2 separate regions of the Homo sapiens genome follow, and region 2 is linked to region 1. The links come from fine-mapping of genetic effects on gene expression. Tissue or cell type: whole blood. Region 1 holds a variant in brackets; the other region holds the start of a gene. All regions are shown on one strand. Distances are between the middles of the regions.

The links. PIP is the estimated chance that this variant, and not a neighbour inherited with it, causes the effect.
Region 2: it holds the start of SLC2A9, and the variant in region 1 is fine-mapped to the expression of SLC2A9 in whole blood (INTERVAL, PIP above 0.99).

The regions. Positions count from the first base shown.
Region 1 is chr4:10,161,540-10,169,644 of GRCh38, reverse strand. No RefSeq gene overlaps it. Among named protein-coding and RNA genes, the nearest start is that of WDR1, 49 kb to the right of the region's middle. The variant TA/A (reference allele first, on the strand shown) is at 4,966.
Region 2 is chr4:10,018,452-10,026,556 of GRCh38, reverse strand. SLC2A9 (solute carrier family 2 member 9) reads left to right here and starts at 5,060. Exons shown (of 12, transcript NM_020041.3): 1 at 5,060-5,277; 2 at 7,484-7,582. The coding sequence starts at 5,128. RefSeq lists an enhancer at 5,079-5,578 and a silencer at 7,592-7,751.

The DNA of each region.
Region 1 (8,105 bases):
CTATGAGGCCCCACCTCTCAATCTGCAGGTAGTGGTCACTCTGCATCTAAACAAAAAATAATCTGATGGTGGACACTAAGTACAGCAAGGGTTCCTATTATTTGGGCATATGGTATAGTGGTACCGCAACCCCAAATGATATGGCGTGCTGTAGGAGCTAAACGTAAGGAATTATGGAAAATCTTAATGGCACTGAAAAAAAGATTTGGGAAGGGAAATTTATTAAGCCAGCCCAATATAATCCTAATTACATAGTAGAATTGGCCTAACGATTCAGTCCGGATACAGAGTTGTGTCCATCTGCCTTTCCTGTTGGTAGAGTGGGTTTTTTAAAACTTGATCTCCCTAATCATGTAACTTGTCAGGAATGTAGTTTTCTTGTGTTAATTCTTCCTTGTATAATACTGATCATTCTATTTTAGTGGTAAGAGCCCGAGGAGGAGTATGGATACCCGTAAAGCTTTCCTGTCCTTGGGAAGCCTCTCCTGTGCATATTGTTACTAAAATTCTTCAAAAGGTTGTCACAGCTGCTGCCACAGTAGCTGGAGTTGCTTTGCATTACACAGTACAAACAGCAGACTATGTAAATAATTGGTAGAAAATTCTACTTTGCTGTGGAGTTCCCAAATAGACCACGAACTAGCTAATCACATCAATGAGATCTCCAACAAACTAATGTGGCTAGGAGATTGAGTAGTTAGAATATAGAGTACAGTTACAATGTGACTGGAGTACTTCTTTTTACGTTACTCCTCATCTGTGAAATGAAACAGCATGAGTGGGAAAAAGTTAACATTTAAAAGGTCATACTGGATATTTTCTTCAGATATTGCAAAACTGAAGGAACAAGTGTTTCAGAAGCCTCTCAGGAACATCTGACGCTAATGCCAGTGCTTGAAGGAGCTGCAGATGGATTAGCAGCTATTAACCCATTAAAATGGATCAAGACACTTGGAGACTCTGATTTCTATGACTGTGCTTTTAATCTGTGTAGTCTGTAGCCTACAGATGCGGATCCCGAATCTTGCGAGAAGTAGCCCACCATGACAAAGCTGCCTATGCCTTTATCGCTTTACAAAAAGGAAAAGGGGGCCTTGCTGGTAGCAAGCCCTAACCCTGTCATAAACAGGCGTTAAACTGGCCATAAACAGGATTTCTGCAGCAATGTGACATGCTCATGATGGCTATCACACACACTGCTAAAGGTTGGTTTACTGGAGCAGCGCTAGGAAAACCTGGCCCACCCAGAGCAGGAAAACTACTCAAACCACAAACAATAGCAGGAGCTGCCGGTGCCTTAACATGCTTTTGCTGCAGATAATCAGCCAGGGCCTGTTTCTCTGCTCCTCACTAAGAATGCTTTCTTTCCCATAAGGAATGCTTTTAGCTAGTCTGTAATATGTAGAAACTATGCTTATCACTGACTTTGTCAAATGTATGGGTCAGACTGACTCTCAAGCTCTGAAGGCTGTCAGCTCTTTGATTCCCACTTCATTCCTGTGTCTCTGTCTTTAATTCCTCTAGTGCCACTGGGTTAGGGTCTCCACAACCAAGCTGGTCTTTGGCAGTCTGGGACACTGAAGGACACTTGATCAACCCACAGCCAGTGGCAGGTCTCTGCTGACTGGACTCCAGGCCAGTTGCCTTACACTGCCATCTTCCCCATGGCAGGCCTTCCTGCACCAGCAGAGATGTCAGGGATACATCTGAGTTTTGCCTTAGAGTTTCTACCTTATGCCTTAACATCTAGGTGGTGGACAATACCTGGGGGTTTCAGGACGCTTACAGAAATGCCAACCAGCATTGGGAGGTAGAAAAGACTCTTGGATCAACCTCCACTTGAGTATGGAGAAGTCAGGAGGCAAGGAGTGGAACCTTCAGAGAGATCGAGGAAGATAATCCCATGTTTGAACAACCATCAGTAGGAACTGAAGAGGGACAGCAGGCTTCTAATTCCCCAGGCATAACCATGTTACCAGGAACGCCAGCAAAGGAGACCAAACAGAAGGTCTGTTATAGGTGACAACACTCCACCCAAAGAGGGCAGAGCGCAGTAACTGACCAAAGCCTCAGTATACCAAGCTCACCGATTACCATCAAAAACCACCACCGGTTAACCTGCTTCACCAGGACATTCTGTAGGCCCAGTGCCAACTATTAGAGCTGAGCAAAGGCCAAAAGTTAGAGGCATACATATCTGCACCTTTGCCTACCCACATCAAAAGGATGCTCCCAGCAGAGCTGAGACTGGAATCCAGACATCACAAAGGTTGTCTGAAGTGGACAAGGGAAACATCCCTGTGAAATTCAGAGCAGATTCATCTTCCTCAGAGGAACTGCCTGCCCTGGAAGAGCCTGCTTCTCTCAAGAGGATTTATACAATCGTGGTGACAACTTTCACCTCAGACTTTGCTGGCCTTGTGGGGATAGAATCACAACCAGGGCCAGGACACCAGAGGCAGTGCAATCGCCACAAGAGGCCTATGGAGTTGGGTGGTGTGGGATCCACGGGAGAAGTATCCCTGCAGACAGAGGTGTCTGGGTTCACTCATCTCCCGTTTCATGTTGGACACACCTGAGTTCCAGGAAAGCCAGGAGGCAACAGTTTATTTTTGCTTCCTGCCTCCAATTTCACCCCCATACCTTGAAGGTGCTACGTTGTGCCTCTAGTGTGTTAAGTGAGGTCTTGATGAAAAGCCTCCCGTAGGTATAGAACATCAGGAAGAAGGGCATATCTATGGCACTTAACGACAAAGCCTCAGTCGATTCCATGGTGCTGACCTCTGAAGTCCGGTCTTCATACCTTAACAGGCCAAGCACACACCAGTGGGTGGCAGATGTCAACTTAAGACACACCCCCGCCCCCCACAGCAGTGCCTGCTGCTTCATAGGTTGAGATACAGAGCCTCGGTTTGAAGATGGAAACATTTCACAAGTTACCATTGATTCTAGTTAATAAGTAGAACAAGTCATACTCCCAGGTGTCTACTCTTCTAGACATGACTTCAGCAGCTCTCAGCTGGGAACTTCCTCAGCTGACCATTGTAAAGGAGTTGAGAGAAGAAATAGCCGTTTGCTCCTGTACTGAATTTCTCAGAATACTGCCATAAGAACTGCTTCACTCTAGTTGTAGACTTCAAGTGTAAGTGTTAAGACAGAGTCCTTTAATTCTCCTTCCCAGAAATTGATAGACAAAGACAACACCTGCAGCGGCACTCAGACTAACATTCAAGATGTCCCTGGATCCCAAAGCAACTCCATGAAGGGACCAAGACTACAGGAATCCAAGGCTCTTGGAGGATTCTTTCAACGTCATTGCTCCTGCTTTGTCATTGGCTATATCTGAAGAAGGAACTAGGGTGGAAGCAGTTTGAGTATTTGACACTCAGGCTTTCATGAATGAGATGAAAAGCAGACAAAAACAATCCCTAGTCATGAAAGCTGTGACATGCTAAATATCAAGGAATTGAGATCAGTTGGCTAGAGAAGTTGATACTGTGCATGATGCCGTTGAAAACTTTAGTTAAAAAGCAAACTCAAAATGCTCAACACCAAACTTGAAAAGTTGCTAACAAGCATCTCAATTATGCCTTTTTGACCTATGCAAGATATTCCGTATATTGGAAAGATGTATCCCACTTGGCCTAATGCTTCTAGATCTACCAGCTGTTAACTGGTTTCAGCTTCTCCCGCTTGTATTTCTGATCCTAACAAGGAATGGAGTGACTGGTGACTAAATGTGTCCTGCAAGTGCAAAGTTACACAAAACCTACCTCACTGGTCAATTCCCTTGCACTGGAATGGAAAGCTCATTTATAGCATCACTGACAACTTCTGACCAGAGCAGTTTAATGCAGTACTGGAACAATGGTCGACCAATGAGAAAAGCTCCCTTTGCCTTCCAGAGCATTTACAGTTTCATCTAAGCACGAGGACAACTTACAGACTAGCATGTTTACATGTTATGAATTTCAGAGAGCCCTGATGAACGTGACTAAGAACATCACCACTATGCCAACTCAGTGGGCACAGAGCTCAGCCCCATTGCACAAAACAGCATCAACTCCCCTACTTAAAATTCTTTCCCAAAAAACATTTTTCAGGATATTTGAGTTCAATAACCTGAGGCCTTTATGGTTTGTCTCCAGGATAAACACACAAGGCACTTTATTTTCTACTGAGTTGTGGGTTTTTTTCTGCTTTTTAAAGCTTTTAAGGTTGCTTCCCACTCAAATTGAGTTTTAAGTTACCTGATGAATTTAAGGAACCATATTCACAATGTGCAAGCATAATTTTGCACCATTTTAGTTGAATTGGATCGTTTTTAAATTTAGATTTGACATAAAGCTGTACCATAATGTATCCAGCTAAGTTTAGTCTGTGCTTCCTAGACTTACAGCCTTGCCGTGGATCTTTTTCACTTGTCCTGGGTCAATGAGTATCCAACTTTATTAGTAGGGAATTTTTGCTTTTACTGAAGACAAACTGGGAGGAGAGGTGGAGTAGGAAGGTTTGTAACCATCATGATACAGACACTAGTTTTGGAGAAGAATCCTCAAAGACGAGGTGAAAAGAAAGCTTGGGAAGCAGGGGATTTGTGGTTCGCTGCTCACCCCTGCCCCCAACTGGCTGTTGGTCAGAATTTCAGTGATAATACCCATTTCTTCCTCAGACATGTTCTTGTCCAATTGTCTTTTCCCAAGACACCAACCAGGAATTGAGTTTAATATCCAGAGGATGTTCAGGAAGTCATTCAGGCAATGAATTTAGGTGTTTGCCCAACTATGAAGTGTAGAAGTTTCTTGCCATTGAATTTGAGGCCTTATTGCAAACTTCTTTCAGTGAATTGAATATATGTGCCAATTAGGTATTAACGTCAAATTTTCCACATTTCCTAATTGTTTTAAAGATGTGTTCAGCCAAGGTAAACTGCCCACTATAAGCCATACAGTTTTTTTTTTTTTT[TA/A]AGGTTAATATGTAGTTTAAAGTCTTAGTAGATAAAGTTATATCCACAGGTAAAACTGAATGAAGTATGTAGCAAGATTCTTGAAGGTATGTTGGAACGTAGAAAGCCCCCTGGGATGATAGCCAGCCATACATGGGTCATGGAGAGGGAGCAGGAACTCAGTCCTCCAAGGACTCACCTGCAAGCAGCATCAGAGCAGCTTCTCAGCCTCTGCCCAGACAGGCTACATGTGACCCGATAGCAGCCTACAGGAAGGCACAGAGGTCATTCAGACCCACAGTGGGCTGTATCCCACACACTATGACTGTGGTGCCGGTCCCGGTCCCAGTCCCAGGCCATAATAGGAAAAGGATGTCCCAAATCAAGAGGAAAAAAGGCAGTATCATAAGCCCTAGGAGCTCAGTTTAGGAGATGTGTTCTAGGAGGCAGGCAGTCTGCTCCCCAGGGAATGCTCCTTGCCTGACCCAAGCTACCCTGACTCTCCACACTGAGAATTGGAAGTAGTCATTTGGCAGCAGGCATACATCATCTCCCCTGTGGAGAAACCCAATGGCCCTCCAGTGTTCCTAAGAGACATCCACTCAGCTGTCTTCCACAGGGGGGATTTTGACCCTCACAACCCATCCCTGCCCAGCGGTTTCTTGCAACACAGCGAGACACCTATACAGTATTTCCTCCTCTACCTTATTCCTGGCTGGCTGCACTTGCACACGCCTTCCAGCCAGAATACAGGATGCACAGACACATCCTGCAAGTAATGCGAAAGGGCTTGGGGAACACCAAGCATAGAAGTTCCCAACCCGAGCATAGACAACAGGTTATGCCACATGCCTAGAGGGACTGCTGGCTTAGAGATGGGCCACTTGGCTTATTCTTATGGCTTGAGGCCCAAGAAAAGGCCACTGAGCTCTTTGGGGGCATGCACAGATCACCAACATTGACTTGGGGGTGAGGCCGTGCTCATGTTTTCCAGTTCTATCTCCCAAATCACCTGGACTCAGACTAAATGAAGGTAGATTTTAGCAACTGCTTAAGAACAGGAGTTTGAGGCATTCTTCTGAAACACATCAGGTAGAGAGAATCTTCCCCAAAATGAGCGGGGGAGGGGGACCACCAGCTACTGTAGCCTAGTCCCCAGGAAAGAAGCCAAGTTTATAATAAGCAAGTACAAGGCCCTGGAGTGTGGCCAGTCCACAGCACCACTTCCCAGTTCATCTGATGTCACTTAGGCTGTGGCAATACAGGTGGGGGCTCACAGCTAGTCCCCCCTAAGTGAAGAATGGAGCACTAGCAAGATTGAGGGCATCTAAAACATGATAAAGGTCCCAAGTAGTCACTCAGGGAAGCCCCTTGAACACCACCCCCACCCAACCTTCAGTACACACAACCAGCTCCACCAGCTGTCAATCTCACAATGATGGTGAAGCCAAGTCCAGGGTCACCTAGGAGCCTCCTTTCCCACCCTGCAGCTCATCACCTGAGCTTCCCTTGGTAGGTGGATCCATGGTCCTAGAATTGAGGAACTCAAAGCCCTGCTAGGATGCATGGGAAACCTCAGCAGTTCAAGGACAGGTCCCCAGATAAAGGTCTCAGGATCTGCCCTTTTCAGAAGACAGGCAGTACACCCTTCCCTTTCCAAGGAGCTGGGTACTATGCTACACCCGATACCTGGGCTAGAAGTTTCAACATTCTTCTGCGGACAACAGCCCTCGTCGTAATGCAAAGTTTCTTGAGCCAATGTTATGCCACATCCCTGGATGTGGCCACTTCCAATGGCTAGGAGTGTGAGGAGTACACAAAAGCCCAGCCAGGTAATATTCAAGGCTAGCTGTGGAAGCTACTCTGGCTCCAGAGATTATGGCCTCATTTAAGCTTCTTTTCCAAAACAAACAGTTTGCATTCCACCCTGTTCCAGTTTGCTTTCAGGTGTGAGAGCTCACTTCACCAGTAAACCTAACACCTTAAACAATTTCCATCTACAAGTCTGCCTCTAGGGAACACAAATTGACTTCACATACCCAATTATTTCATTCTCAGATCGCTGTAGAAAGTCAAACAACCCACTTGGCTCCTCCAGTATGGAAGTAGGCAGAAGTCCCCTGGGTTTGCTAGTACACATTGGTGTTAGACTGGTTGTTATAAACTTAGTTGTGTAAAGTCCAAGGTCCACCTGGTCTTCCCAAGAGGACACGTGTGTCACCGTGTGACTTTTCACATTGCACAATTGGTGTCTTAAGCCTATACCATGAACCACCTAGAACACATTACAGAATTCGTCCATTCACATTGTGTGCCAATCTAAAAACTTAAAGACAGAAATTTAAATATAGATCAAGGAGATACTTTGTAATGAGGTCAGCACAGAAGGTTTAAGGGAGAGGGTCCACTGGCTGGAGTACAGGAATGCCTTTTTTGTATGCTCTGGACCCTCTCCACCAGGCTCAGCAAGACTGACAAGTCTTACGTCCCAGTCTGACTTCAGCCCCATCCTGCCTCCTTTCTCTCTTCATGGGTTTTAATCTGAATATTTTATACAAACTTAGTGTTGGCTTAAAGTGTCCTTCCCCAAGCGCTCAACTACCCCACCACAAACCACCCACGGAAGTAGTCTCAGCCTGGTTCAAAGGAGCGAACAGTCAGGCTTGCAAGAGCCTCTTCCGTAGCCTGCCTCAGTTTACCAGCAGTTTCAAGAGACAGTTTGCTGCCAGGAAACAACCTATGACAAGCACAATGCACTCCAGTTGCAGTACCTACTTTAAACCAACAACTGTTCTCTGATGCTTCTCCCTTATTACCCACAATGACCCCGGATAGTGAGTTTAGAAGGCATTTACTTCCCAAACGTAGGTCCAAAGCAGACCTAGACAGTGTAGCTCCAGATACTTCCAGAGGACCCAACTACACTGCCAGGTCATGTTTGGCTCCTTTTGCCGGAAGGTGAGCAGGAACTGCTGCTACACTGGGCCATTTCTTGGTGCCCCCAATGCCTGATGGGTCAGGAGTAGCTAGGCCATTACAGCAAACATTGCCTGATAAGGACAGGCCAGCAGGGGCTCAGACATTAGGTGGTTGTTTGGTCACCTTTGAAACAAGCAACTTTGACAAGTATTGGCCAAGTGTGAGGGACTCTGAGGACTGA
Region 2 (8,105 bases), 140 kb after region 1:
ACAAGTTTTTCTTTGAGCAGCTGCTTTCAGTCCTCTTGGGCATCGATGTGGTGGTGGAATTGCTGGGTCATGTGGTGATTTTATGTTTAGAGAAACAAGCAAACTTTTTCCCACAGTAGCTAAACCATTTCACATTTCCACTAGCAAAGACAATCCTATACAAGGGTTCCAATTTCTCCACATCCTTGCCAAAAACTTTTAGTTGATTTTTAAAAAAAAAATATGGGTGACACTAGGACATTTTTGTACATAGCCCGGGGAGATCCAACACAGAGAGATAAATTGATGATGCAGAAGAGGAATGGGATCATTGCCTGTATTTAATAATCAACAAGGCAAGTGTGGGAAGCCCTGCACTCAAAAATAGAGAAACTGAGGACAGAGGAGAGCAGGGAGATGCCCAAGCGAGGATGCTGCTGTGTCCTATCCTGGCATCCCAGCCAGAGCTCCTCACAGCAAACCTTTCGAAGACTGCTCCAGGCCACCTCCCCTGACTTGCACATCTGAGAAAGCAGCTGTCTAATGGCTTCTTTCTTTTTCTCTTTCTCAGAAACAATAACAACAAAAGTTCAAAACCTGAAAAGTGAACCATGAAGCTCAGTAAAAAGGACCGAGGAGAAGATGAAGAAAGTGATTCAGCGAAAAAGAAATTGGTCAGTCCTTTTTTTTTTCTGTCTCCCTTACATGATTATTCCGGTCACCCAGGGGGTAGTACCCCTTTCCCCTGGGTCAGTGGGAGGCTGTTAAGGTGAAGCTGGGCAGAGAAAAGAGTGAGCAGCAGCTGAAAGCCAAGTTCTATGGGAAGGAGCCATGGGGATTGTAGAGTGTCTGGGATGAGGCTCAGAAGAGTGAAATTGACAGTCCTGATCTGCTGGTGACTTTCTGGGCTTGGGGCAAAAGTCTCCATTACAAAGGTCATTTCTCAACAAGGGGACATTGATGTTGACAATGATTATGTCATCATCGTTAAAGATACACTAAAACCCACCCCTTAATCCATCACAAAGCTTAGTCGACCTGCCCCTTCCTCCAGGAAGTCCTCAGCTCCTATTAATAGAATGACTTTCTTTCTTCTTGGGACTCATCAGATGCTCTTTTTAAACCTGATTCAAGAACCAACAGCCAGAGAGTGCCTACTCTGTGCTGGACCTTTACATAGGGCTCTCATTTAAAGAGAGACTCTTTACATGGTTCTCTCTGGATCAAACCATGCTGAAGGCATCACTGGCCCTATTTTACAGGCGATGAACTGAGGCTCAGAAAGGGATGAAGCCACTTGTCCAAGGCTATGTGGCTAGTACAGGTTTGAGCCCTTCTTAAACCTTGGATTATCTGTGCCTCACCTCCTGTGATGGGTGTGGAAGCTACTGTGACTCCAGGGAAAATTTATTTGTATTTATAATAAACCTGTATTTGGTAGGACAGAGATCAACACAAGTCCATTTACCAAGTTGTCAAGAAGGTGTGAAATTGGCAAGCTGAACATCATTGTCCCCACAGAGGTGTGAAATGGAGGATAAGGGTGCAGTCACCTGTTTGAGGTTACCCAAGACCCCACGCAAGAATAATGTCAAATAGACAGCAGTTCCCTCTAAGTGGACGCTATATCTTTTCTTGGTGCTTACATTAGGTGAGTCAAGGATCTACTGTCTAAGTATTTGGTGTAATGAAGGAAGGGATGTAGTCATTTCAAACATTCTGCTTAAATGATACTCAATAGAAAACCCCCCTTCTTTTCCAACTCTTCCCTGCTAGAAAACTTCCACCTTGTCCAAGACAACTTTTTAGCCTTAGGAAATCATCCGGAGGACAGTTTAAGGTCAGTTCCAGAAGTGATGCCTATCTACTGGACCCTGTCCCTGAGCCAGGCTGAAGGAAGTCTAGGAATACAAAGAGGCTTAGGACACTGTGGGTTTGCTGGGGCTGCCAAGACAAAGTCCCATAGACTGGGCAGCTTAAACAACAGAAATGTATTGTCTCACAGTCTTAGAAACCAGAAGTCCAAGCTCAGAGTGTCAGCAGGTTAGTTCCTTCTGAAGCCTCCCTTCTTGGCAGAAGTGGCTGCCTTCTCCCTGCGTCCTCACGTGGTCATCCCTCTGTGTGTGTCTGTGTCCTCATTTCCTCTTCCTATAAGGACACCAGGCATACTGGAATACAGCCCCATGCATATGACTTCATTTAACCTTAATTACCTCTTCAAAAACCCTATCTCCAAATACAGTCACATTGTCAGGTACTTGGGGTGAGGACTTCAACATGTGAATCTGAGGGGACACAATCAGCCCATTGAGACGCACACCATCCCTGCCCACAGTGAGCTCCCGTGCAGAGGGGAAGGCACACGTGAGCAGCAGCACACGTGCAGAGGGGAAGGCACACATGGAGCACAGAGGCAGCGAGAGGTTGGGGAGGCTGCTGGGAGGAGGTGGCGAGAGAGTTAAGTGCTGAAGGGTGAGCACAGTTCAGGGCAGTCAGAAGTGAGGGCCTGAGCAAGGTCAGGAGAACCTGAATGAGTAGGAGCTTCATAAAGACAGGCAAGTAATGACTGAATGAAGGAACCAGTGAGTGTCAGAGCAGGCAGAACGTGCCCCAGCCCAGAACATCTGGGGATGTTTGTCTTATGACTTCATCTGTGATAGGAGTCGCTTCCTTAGCAGTTGCCTGCAGTGCAGGGCCGATGGCCCTGTGGAATGGGGAACCAGCCCTCGCTTTGGAGGCAGGCTCCTCCATGCTCCCCCTGAACTTCAGTTGCCCCGAAATGTAGGTCTGATAGTTCCTCTGAGGACTAAACGATATCATGAAGGTGAACACACTTGGGAAAGCCCTGTGCACATGTAACATGAGCTGTGCACATGTAGTAGGAGCTGAAGGTGAGGCAAGTGCTGTGGCTACCAGGAACCCTGGTTAGCTACCATCTGGATCCGGGAGGGACCCATCTCCGCTCTTTTACTTTCTGTCCAGCTGTAGCTGCACATTCATGTCCACTGCCTAATTTCTGGTTCCTTTTGAGTTTTCAAACCCAACAGAGGACTACGAAGCAATTTTTAACGGGATGAGGGGACACCTGATCCAATTTGAGCTTTAGCAAAATCTGGTGAGGTCCCCACTGTTACAGATGAGGAAACAGGGAGGGTATAGAGAGGGGAGTCACAGCAATGGGATGAGGAGGGGTAAATGAGATGATGAAAATGCAGTCCCTATCAGGACAGCATAGGGGCAGAGGGGCCCTCCATGCACAGGGATGCAGCTGTCCCTGCCCCTCCTCTGCCCATCTCCTGTACTTCAGGCCCCAACCATGCTTCACTGACAATTTCACTTCCTCCCACACACTGCAGGCATCTGTGCCTGCAGGCCTTGGCTCCTTGTCCTCTCACCCCGTATCCTTCTCTGTCCGCTCAGAAGCCGCCTCTTCCAGCGGGGTCTCCAAGATCCAGCTGAGATTGATGTGGTGCCTCCTCCACACTGTCCTGGGGAATCCTCCGCCTTTTTAGGTCATGTTATAATTAAGGATTTGCACATCAGAATGCTGCTCTAGGCCCACCACTCAATGAGGAAACCAGGCTGCATAGCTGAAATCCAGTTCAAGAAACAGCCACTTCTCCCGGGGCATGCCTGACTGATTAACACACAGAAGGACGATTGCACTGAATGACTGGCGTGCTCAATACATCCCCAACCTAACTCCTGAGGGTGGTTTTCCTCTTTGGAAGTCTTGATTCCCCACTTGCTTTGAGCAGCCACATTCCCACCACCGTGCATGTCAGGGCCGGACGTTTCCACGTGCGTTTCACATTCCAGGTTCCTGGAATGTCTGCCGTACTCCACACCTTTTATTTTATTGTGTGCTTTTTACTAAACGTACTTTGCTAACTTTTCGATCTCTCTTTTGTGGACTGAGCCCTACCTTGCCTCCTGGACGTTCTGCATTCACCAAGCCTGTCCCTGGCTCTGGCCCAGACTCTGCACTGCTCTCTGCTTCTGGGAGCAAACTGTTCTAGCCAAAATTGAAGGTGCTTCTCTGGCGTCTGAGGCAACATGGCCATGTGATGAACTGATTCCCACAACCTCCTGGTGTGCATGAGGCCCTTGCCTTCTCAGTACTGTCCTTGAGCCAGCCTGGGGCTGGAATACAGGACATGTCCCCTCAGCCAGTGCTGAATGAGCAGGACAGAGTAACGACTAAGAGGCAAATTCTTTTTCTTCCAAACCCACAGCCCTCGCCTTTGTTCTAGGCTACAGGAGAGCCCACACTCATTTACAGCACGCCACTTGGGGCTGGCTGTTTTCTATTTGAGCTTCAGAATAAGTCTGCAGGACAGTCAGAGTGGGGTCAATATTCCATTTTGCAGTGGTAGAAGTTGCAGCTCAGAGAATAAAGTGACTTGCCTGAGGACACACAGTTAAAAAGTGGAGGAGTTGGCCAGACATGGTGGCTTACGCCTCTAATTCCAGCACTTTGGGAGGCTGAGGTGGGCAGATCACCTGAGGTAAGGAGGTCAAGACCAGCCTGGCCAACATGGTGAAACACAGTCTCTACTAAAAATACAAAAATCAGCCAGGCGTGGTGGCACACGCCTATAGTTCCAGCTACTTGGGAGGCTGAGGCAGGAGAATTGCTTGAACCCAGGTGCGGAGGTTGCAGTGAGCAGAGATTGCATCAGTGCACTCCAGCCCGGGCAACAGAGCAAGATTCGGTCAAAAAAAAAAAAAAAAAGTGGAAGAGTCAGGGGCAGAGCTGTATGCAGGCTTCTGAGTCAAAGTCAGCCACCTCTCCATTCTGTTCCAAGCATTAGGGAGGTATCCTAGGTTAATGGCAGTCACCCTGCTCCAGGCTTTGTTACCAGAGAAAAATAAAAAGATGCTAAGAAAAAAAAAAAAAATTCCACCCCCTGGGTGGCAATCCTGGAGAGGACAGATTTCCCTTTTTGGACTGTTTCATTGCTGTAATAACTTAGGAGCAGAGAAAAAAATGTTGCCCCGTTGCCTGTTCAGGCATGATCAAATTGCCACACTTCCTGTCAGGAACTCCCGCCCTCCTTCCAGTGGACTCTGCCTCCTCACTCACGGAAATGCCTTGGCAGAGTCTGGGGTCCCTGGACTGAGCCATCAGCTGGGTCACTGAGACCCATGGCAAGGAAACAAAATAGGAATTCCAAGGAACTGGGCCTAGTTCCCCTCACAGATGACACCAGCCACGCCGGGCCTCCAGGGCCAGGGAGGGCACTGCTGGAGTGTGACCACCTGAGGAGTGGGGTGCCAGGTGGAAGGAGAAGAAAGGTAACTACGGACAGCTTTTCTGCATGGCTGGCGGGCTGTGGGGAAGGCAGGCCTGGGTGGCAGCCGTGTGACAGTGCTCAGCCCCAGCCTGGCAGCGTGTAGCTGGGGGATCTGGGGCTTTGAGGCAGGGAGGCCTCAGTTTGAGTTGCACTTCTCCATCTGTGTGACTTTGGCATGCTCTCTCCAAGCCCCAGCTGACTGGGCCAACAGCGTCTCTGGTAGACTGGGTGTGTACATGGAATGAGGCTATGGTGGCAGGCTGCCCTGCCCCGCACTTGCATGGTGGTGTCCCTCTTCTCACCCTCCCCAGGGCATGGCACGGGCAGCAGCACCGTCGGTCAGTGGGCACCCTCTGCCCGTGCAGTGAGTGGGGAGCGGGTGGAGGGCACAGGCGGGCCACACAGGCAGGGGGCTCCGGGGAGCACAGCTGAGGCAGGAGAAGATGGCCCCCACCTGCCCTTCACCAGCCTCTGGCAGGGGCACTTCACACCAGGTGCTCCCAATCTGATGGGGTGCAGACCAGGGAGGAGTTTGTGTCCTCTAAGGTCATCGGGGCTGGGAGCAAAGAAGGCACAGAGCACAGAAACGATGCCCAGCACAGCCCAGGGGCTCAGAAGAAGTGGTATCTGTGCCGAGACTCAGAGGATAGGTTTAAAGAGAAAGAGTGATAGAGAACAGGCGTTTCATCTGAAATGTGATTCTGTTCCATCAGGGATCCCCATTCAGCTCAAGCTCCTCTCACTGCAGAAAAATATTCTGGTACTACATTTCAATTGGCAGCACCCATCCCCAAGGCTTATAAATGTTCCCTCTTGCCCCCGCATGTGATCAGCAGCCTCTACGGAGCACCTCCTCTGCAGCAGGCTCCTCAACAACATATGTGGCCAGTGCTGCTATTAAGATCCCATTTCACAGGTGGGCAAGCTGAGCCCCAGAAAAGTCAAGTCACTTGCTCAGACTCCTACAGCTGAGGGGACTGGCCCTGGAGGTAAAGCTGATATCACTTGGCTCAAAGCCCCAAAGCTCTATCTCGTGGCTGGTGGCACTAGAGGAGACAAACGAGACTGGCAGAGCAGGTAAGTGGCCATCAAGAGACCCGCATTCCCTTCCAGACGGGATTTGACTGATATGGGTCCCTGAACCATGGATCCATATGTCTTCTTCACTGTTGCACCCCCACAGCTTTGTCAGGGCCTGGCGCCTACAACACACACACACACACACACACACACACACACACTCACAAATATGTCAAATGATGGCAAAGAAGGTGCCTTCCGGAGCACCTGGCCCCTGTCCACTTGGCCTGTATTCCCTGACCAGCTGAGGACAGCCATCCCTCCTGCCCTGGCTCATGCCAGCTTGTCAGCCTTTGCCAGGGATCCAGGTGTTTCTGCCCTATGGCCCTGTACTGGTGGTGGCTGTCCTTAGATGGGGCTGCAGGGCAGGACAACACCAAGGCAGGCGCCCTGTTCTCTGTGCCAAACCTTGCATCTCTACGTCTGCAGGTCCTTGTCCTGAGGCTTGGACCAGCCCCTGTAGTTTGACGCCTCAGACTGGAACAGTATGTGCATGTAAGCGTGTGTGCACATCTGTCTGGCTGTCGGCAGTCTCAGGCCCTTGGACAACGGCACTCAGGTGACGGGTCAGCAGGGGACAGTGCAGTGGTGACTAGAGGGGCACTGCAGCCAGGCCACCTGGACTTCAGTCCCCATCCTAGACAGCACCAGCCACGCTCCCTGCCCCTCTTTCCTCACCTGTAATACAGGACATAACAGCACTGATCTAAGGACTCAGAGACAATGCGCAGAAAAGTGCTTAGAATCACGCCTGGCTGATAGCGCTTGGAGTCTGGCTTTGCTTTTTTCTGTCTGGGTCGGACACTCGCCAACTTCGCTGAAAGGATCGTGTGGAGCTGCCCAGAGCAGCTGCTGAAAACTGCGTTTCAGGAATCCTCACGCAACCCGGAAGGAACGCAAGGGCGTGGCCGCTAAACCTGAGGGCGCCCGGCCTGCGCACGCGGACCTGGACTGGAACCCTACTTGCAGGTCCCCAACTTGCGTCTCTTCTCTCTGTCTCTACCCCAGCCAAGGACAAAGACTTCTCCTCCGGAAGGCCTCCCCCAGCTGAGGGAACGTTCCAGGTCTTCCCTCGGCCCTGGCTGCGCGCCCGGTGCCGGCTCTGACGTGGTTTCCTCTCCCCTCAGGACTGGTCCTGCTCGCTCCTCGTGGCCTCCCTCGCGGGCGCCTTCGGCTCCTCCTTCCTCTACGGCTACAACCTGTCGGTGGTGAATGCCCCCACCCCGGTGAGTGCGCGCCAAGGCCCGGCAGAGGGCGCTGCGGCCCTGCGGAAACCTTCGGGTGCGCAAGGGCCCTGGGCTCCAGCGCCCCCTCCTGTTGCGCTCGCGGCGCGGGACACCGCGGGGACAGAGATTAGCCCCCACTCGGGGGAGAGGGGAGGCACAGAGACAGACAATGATGACACGGGGACAGGGGCGGGGGATGACAGTTCTTGCGGCTGGAGGGCGGGTGTCCTGGGAGAACGTTGGGAGACTAGATGAGAGGGGGCTTCGGAAGTCCCGGGGTGGGGTGGGGGGCGATCCTCTGGCCCCTAATGCCGGGGAAAGAACCAGGAGGGGCCTTATGCATGGAAACTTGGACATTTTCTTGATTTGTTTTGTTGTTGTTGTTATCTATCTATCTATCTATCTATCTATCTATCTATCTATCTATCATCTTTGAGATGGAGTCTCACTCTGTCACCAGGCTGGAGTGCAGTGGTGCGATCTCGGCTCACTGCAACCGCCGCCTCCCACGTTCAAGTGATTC